2 linked regions of the Homo sapiens genome follow. The protein of the gene in region 1 purifies or fractionates together with the protein of each later gene. This does not show direct contact. Each region holds a gene or a part of one and is shown in the gene's direction. Other genes may lie near its edges.

Region 1 (3,655 bases):
CTTTCACTGATTTACTTAGATACCATCCTAGGTACAAAGGATTCTACAGCTGAGTAAGGTAGAATGGTTCTTGCGCTTAAGCACCTCGCAATCTAGAGCTGCAATGTCCAATAGTACATTTAGCCACTAGCTACATGTGGCTATTTAAATTTAAACTTAAATGAATTTAAAGTATGCATTTTGTACATGAAATAATTTATATAGTATAATAAAGAATATAAAATGTATATATAATATACAATAGAAAATATGTGGCCAGGTGCAGTGGGTCATGCCTATAATCCCAGCACTTTGGGAGACCGAGGTGGGTGGATCATTTGAGGTCAGCAGTTCGAGACAAGCCTGACCAACATGGTGAAACACTGTCTCTACTAAAAATACAAAAAAAATTAGTCAGGCATGGTGGCACATCCCAGCTACTTGGGAGGCTGAGGCAGGAGAATCTCTTGAACCTGGGAGGCAGAGGTTGCGGTGAGCAAAGATTGTGCCACTGCACTCCAGCCTGGGCAACACAGTGAGACTCTGTCTCAAAAAAAATGTGTGTGTATATATATAATGTAAAATTTTAAAAAAATCTGTCCCTCAGTCATACTAACCACATTTCAAATACTCAATAGCTACATGTGGCTAGTGGCTACTATATTGGACAGCATACGTGTAGGCCAGCAGTCCCCAACTTTTTTGGCTCCAGGGACTGGTTTCTTGGAAGACAATTTTTCCATGGATGGGGGTGGTTAGGTAGGGGGATGGGGTTGGGGTTTCAGGATAAAACCATTCCACCTCAGATCTTCAGGCATTAGATTCTCATAAGGAGCCTGCAACTTAGACCCCTTGTGTGTCAGTTCACAATAGGGTTCACGCTCCTATGAGAATCTAATGCCGCTGCTGATTGACAGGAGGTGGAGCTTGGGCGGTAATGCTCACTCACCCAAGGCTCACTGTGCAGCCCGGTTCCTAACAGGCCAGAGACCGTTACGGGTCCTTGGCCCAGGGATTGGGGACCCCTGGTCTAGGACATTTCCATAATTGCAGAAAGTTCTATTGGACAGCACTGGTTTGGTAGGAGGGAGGACACTGAACACATCATTGCAAATAATTATGAGAATTGTCTTAAGTGCTATCAAGAACTACTGCAAGCCTGGGGAATATATTGAGACCTGTTACTACTAAAAAAATTTTTTTCTTAATTAGCCAGGTCTGGTGGCTCATGCCTGTGGCCCCAACTACTAGGGAGGCTGAGGCAGGAGGATTGCTTGAGCCTGGGGGTTCAAGGCTGCAATGAGCCATGATCATGACACTGCACTCCAGCCTGAGTGACAGAGTGAGATCCTGTCTCAAAAAAAAAAAAAAAAGAACTAATGCAGGGTACAGGTAAGGAAACTAGTTTTAGATGGGAGGTGGGTATCAGGGAAGGCTTCCCTGAGGAAGTGACATTTGACCTGATCCTCTGGAGATATGATTTCAGGAAAAAGAGAGAGGATTAAGAACATTCCAGGAAGAAGAAACTGTATGGGTAAAAGCCCTGAATTGGGAAAAAAGCTTGGTGTGTCTCAAAATCAGCCAAAAGATCATTAATGAACAAGTGGCTTGAGGGGAAACTGCTGAGGATAACAGGGAGTAGGCCATCCAGGGTCTTGTAGTATATGACAAGGAGTTGGGACATCATCCTGCATTTGCTGAATCTACTGTCTCCTTTCTTACAAACCCTGTCTTTCAAGATTGAGTTTGGGTCCACCATTTTAATAAATCTGCCCCTGACTTCTGCCGGTCTTAATCAATAGCAGAGGTAAAAATGTGGAAACTGACTCAGGCAGATCTGGGTTCAAACTCTGGCTCCGGCCCTATCTGGGTGGCCTCGGGCCAAAGCCTTCTTCTCCCCAAGGCTGAGTGCCTATCGGTGAAGTCAGAACAGTGATAATACCTGCAGGGCTGTTGTAAGGATCAGAGAGATAATCGCTGGGAAGCTCTCAGCACAGTGCCTGGCTTTGAGTATGGTCTCGATTTGTGGTGCTGGTATTGTTTTCCTCCACTCAGCATTCGTTTCCCTGATCTTCCAACTTATTAGGTAGTAGGAGCGCCTGGAAGCCACATTCTCCTGTGCAAAACACTAAGAAGATGTCTGGTGTGGTGTGAGAGCACATGTCTGAACTTGAACTCTTCGTCCGTCCTCCACCTGCTCCTCTTTCAGCCTCCCCCATCTCAGTTGATAACAACTCCATTTGTCCCATTTGGCCGGAAACTTTGGAGTCAAGTTAGACTCCCCTCTTCCTCCCATTTCACTTTTTTGTTTTGTTTTGTTTTGTTGAGACAGAGTCTCGCTCTGTTGCCCAGGCTGGAGTGCAGTGGTGTGATCTCAGCTCACCGCAACCTCTGCCTCCCAGGTTCAAGCGATTATCATAGCCACCCCTGTAGCTGGGATAACAGGCATGCACCACCATGCCCAGCTAATTTTTTATAGAGATGGGGTTTTGTCATGTTGGCCAGGCTGGTCACCTGGCTCCAAGTGACCCTCCCGCCTTGGCCCCGCAAAATGCTGGGATTACAGGCATGAGCCACCATGCCTGGCCCCATTTCACTTTCAGTCCATCAAGAAATCCTTTGGTCCTGCCTTCAACTTAACACCCAGACTCCCACCCCTTCTGCTGCAATCCTCTGGTTCAAGTATCCATCCTCTCTCACTGGGATTGATTGCAATGATGTCTGTGCTGGTTTTCCCGCTCCTGCCCTTGCCTCCCTATAGCCCATTCTCAACCCAGTGGCCAGAGGGATTCTTTAAAAGTCAGATCATGTCCTTCCTTGGCTCAAAAATCTTCTATGGTTCCCATCTCACCTCATCTCTTTCACTATCCTACCCATTCATGCTGCTGCCTCCCTGCTGTTCCTCAGCCATGCCAGCCAGGCTCCTGCCTCAGGATCCACCCGCTAGAAAGCTCTTCTCCAAGGTACCTGCTTCACTCTCATAAAGTCTCAAATACCACCTTCTCACCAAAGCTTACCCTAATAACTCTCTTTAAATTTGCAGCCCTCTCATATACCCATCAGGATGGCTACTATTAAAATAAAAAATACCTGAGCTGGGCATGGTGGTTCAAGCCCATAATCTCAGCACTTTGGGAGACCAATGCGAGAGGAATGCTAGAAGCCAAGAGCTGTGAGACCAGCCTGGGCAACAAAGCAAGACCCCGTCTCTACCAAAAATTTTGAAAAACTAGCCAGCCATGGTGGTGTGTGCCTGTAGTCCCAGCTACTTAGGAGGCTGAGGAGGGAAGATTGCTTGAGCCCAGGGTTTTGAGGCTGCAGTGAGCTATGAATGTGCCACTACACTCCAGCCTGGGTGATAGAATGAGACCCTGTCTCAAAAAAGAAAGAAAGACCAAAAAAATCAGAAAATAACAAATGTTGGTGAGGATGTAGAGAAATTGGAACTTTTGCACACTGTTGGTGAAATATAAAATAGTGTAGCCATCATGGAAAAGAGTATGGCAGTTCCTCAAATGTAAAAATAAAAATAATGCCATGTGACCCAGTAATTCCACTTCTGGTTATAGATGCAAAATAATGGGAAGCAGGGTATTGAAGAGATATTCGTACTTCTATGTTCACAGCAGCATTATTCACTATAGCCAAACATGAAAACCCATGCCCATGGACTGAC
Region 2 (3,655 bases), on another chromosome or scaffold:
CATGGTTCACATAAGCAGCAGGAGACTAGGTGAGGCCAGTTCAGGGCAAAGGAGGGGGACAGAGTCAGAAATTCCCTGGGCCCCTGCAACCCTCTTGATACTAAGAATGCAGGTCCCTTGTGTGTGTATGACTTTGGGTAAAAGCATTCTCACAGGTAGTTTCCAGTTGGAGTCTCATAATTAATTGCACAAGATGAGTATGAGAGCTATATTAAATATTATTAGCCTCCTTGTACAGATTAAAATAAAAACTCTAATGCTTAGAGAGATTACATGGTAAGTAGGGGAACCAGCCCCAGAACCCCAGACTTGGGTACCCCAAGCCTGCTTTCCCCTTTTTCTACTATACACCCCCTAAGTGTGGAAAACACTGAAATGATGGCAGTCTCCCATTGTCTATCCCTCACCAACATCCTTCTACTTCCTGGGTGATATTGTGATGTCACCCATAGTTGACACTGCAGAAATGTTCTATCTGTCCCCTGTGATTCTGGGAAAACCTCCAAAGATCAACGTGATTCTGAGATAGCTGTAATCTGTCCTCTGTGACCCCACAGCTGACAATCGGAAAAAGCAGAGGGTCCCGCAACGGGAGCGGAAGCGGCATGACTTCTCCTTGTTTAAGCTTTCGGACACGGAGATGCGGGTGAAGATCTCACCACAGCTTCTGCTAGCCACACACCGCTTCATGGCCACAGGTAGGACAAGTCTCCACTCCAGAGAAGCTAAAACAGAATCTCTAGGGTGGGACCCAGGCACCAATCGTTGTTAATACCTTCCAGCCTGATTCCAGTGTGCTGTCAGGACTGAGAAGCACTGTTCTAGGAAGGAGGTTGCCTTAGACAGGGTAATGGATGCCACCTACTGTCGTATTGAGCCCCAGGCCTGATCTCATAGAGGAAGAAATGAGTATAACTCAACTCTTCTACCAGAGAAAAGAGCTAAAGAAACCATTGCTGCACTTTTCCCTCTTCTACTCACTTCCTCGCTGAAGCCCGAGGCCATCTCCCTGTCTGTTAGACTTGCAGTGCCCTAGAGCAGTGCCACAGAAGCCTGTGAGCTATGAATTTTTAAAATACAGAAGTGTATTGTGAATCTTGGGATCTTTAGAAAGAAAAAAAAGTGAGAAAATCCAAAGATAAACTCCTTCTTGTGAAGAAGATAAAGTTTGTCTTTGAACCCTCTGACCATCCATGCCTAATTAATGTGCTGACCTAGAATGATCATATCTATCACTAACTTCAATATTTAATTAATCCAACATATATTTATTGAGTATGTAATGAGTGCTAGCACTGTTTTAGGTGCTAAAGAGTAGAAAATTTTAAGTTGGAGCTGCTTTAAGATAGAATTTCTAGTTCTGAGTACAGATTTCTTTTAACTACTTCCCAGAGCCTATGTTATATAAGTAATATAAGTTTAACATATGTAATATAAGCAATAGCTGTAATATATAAATATGATGCAATGATGCCTCACATTATTGACAACTTATTATTTAAATAATTGCCTGTCTTTAGTAACATGGGATTTCATTTCATTCAGCAGATATATGTCATACAAATAAGCCAGATTAAATTATCTGCATTTCATTCAATTATAGCATTAAAGTCTTTGTTGTTTATGTGGCTTAGTTGTCCATGTCCAATTTTAAATAAAATCAAAGAAAATTAATAATGAAACAGACATTTCCAAATGGAGACCTGTTTCTCCTGAGATGCCAGTGCAGGGACACACATCTCCAGAGGACGTGGGTAAGGCCCTGAGATGCACACTTGGGATTAGGATCCTCCACTCCGGAGGAACTGCAGAAGCCCTGCCAACCTGATGCCCAGGTACAGGCACAGGGGTCCCAGTTGTGCCCACTCTGACTCCTCCCAGCTGCCACTGCTGGAATGGGTGGGACACAGCTGATGCTGATTCCTCCCTTCCCACTCACTCTCCTCTAGAAGTGGAGCCCTTTAAGTCTCTGTACCTTTCGGAGAAGATCCTGCTCCGGCTCCTGAAACATCCCAACGTGATCCAGGAGCTGAAGTTTGATGAGAAGAACAAGAAGGCCCCGGAACACTACCTCTACCAGCGCAACCGCCCTGTGGACTACTTTGTGCTGCTTCTACAGGTGAGTAGGAAAGTCAGGGAACCTCTGAGAGCCAGAGGAGGGCATCTCCAGGGTGAAGAAATGGCCATGCCTCCGTCAGCACCAAGTTCCAAGACTTGGCTGGCTGCCTCAGCAACAAGGCCAGCTGGGTGGACATTTCTTCATGACCCACAGGAGGGGCCTAGACATGGAAGACTGGTGTCCTGGGAGTGCTGGGATCTTTGACATTTAGTTTGACAACTCAGCGATGTTTGGGGTGGGTTGAATACCTCTCCAATAGAGGGGTTCTGCATCTAAACTTCCAGAACTGCTGCTCTGCGGAAGCTATAATACCTCCTCATCTCTGCTTGAACATCCCCTGAAATGAAACTGCCCACTGCCTCCTAAACTTTAGACAACTCTTCTTTAAACCCTTCTCTCTGTCAAGTGGAAATCTCACCATCTGTGACTTCCATACTGGTCCTTGCTCTGCTCTCTGGAGGTACATGGGACACATTCATTCTCTCAGCTGCATTTCAGCCTTTGCAGTTCCTGAAATCTTCTCCCCCTTCAGAGGACCAGGAAGGGGGAAAATGACCTGTTCAAAGAAGTGCAACATCTCCCCAGTGCTCACATAAGTATGATCACCTTCTGCTCTGGATACCTGAATAGGCCTGTCTTAAATAAGTGTCTGACATGATTGCAGCTTGTAACACTGCTGGTGCCCTGTCTGGCTTCACCATTAGCTCTGTCACTGATTCCCTGTCCCTTCCCAACATAATGTTGTGAATCCTAAATACACTGATTGTATTTTAAAATCTTGATTAAGCTCACATGAACTTAGAAATGGTCTCTTTGTTACTGTCCACTTCCAGCCTCTCTGCTCTGTCACTGTAACTTGCCTCACATATATCTTTCCAAATGGTCTGAACAAAATGACCTCTCTTCTCCAAAAAATGTAGTCATGTGCTTCACTGTTGGAAATCAACAAGAATCCTGTTACATTGTTTGTATAATGTAATGATCACATAGTTTCATGTCTTATGCTGAATATAAACTTAACGGTTTTCAAATAAAACATGGAATAAAATGTAGTAGCAAGAGTGTACGCTCAGAAATTTGAAAAATATGGCTTTAAAATTCCATTGTTGCCATTTCCTAACTAACCTGGACCAAGTTATTCAATCTCTGAGCCTCAAAATTGAGTTCCCTGTAAATCAGGGATAAAAATGGCATAGGCTTCATGGGGTTGTGGGGCTAATTGCATGAGAATCTATGCAGTGCACATAATACAGTGTCATGTCCATGCATGCTATGCATTACATATCAGCTATCACTATTATTGGCAATGAATTAAACAAGCTTCACACAGAATTAGATTTTATCTTTTTTTTTTTTTTTTTTTTTTGAGACAGAGTCTCGCTCTGTCACCCAGGCTGGAGTGCAGTGGCCCGATCTCAGCTCACTGCAACCTCTGCCTCCCTGGTTCAAGTGATTCTCCTGCCTCAGTCTCCTGAGTAGCTAGGACTACAGGCATGCACCACCACACCCAGCTAATTTTTGTATGTTTAGTAGAGA

The links.
Region 2: the proteins of SVOP (region 1) and CNNM1 purify together in Homo sapiens (affinity purification with mass spectrometry; one large-scale study listed by BioGRID and IntAct). This does not show direct contact.

The regions. Positions count from the first base shown.
Region 1 is NC_000012.12:109,014,442-109,018,096, reverse strand, and holds part of SVOP (synaptic vesicle 2-related protein), read left to right. Parts: intron 1-3,655.
Region 2 is NC_000010.11:99,360,278-99,363,932, forward strand, and holds part of CNNM1 (metal transporter CNNM1), read left to right. Parts: intron 1-557; coding exon 558-698; intron 699-1,949; coding exon 1,950-2,119; intron 2,120-3,655. UniProt on the Homo sapiens protein: Probable metal transporter.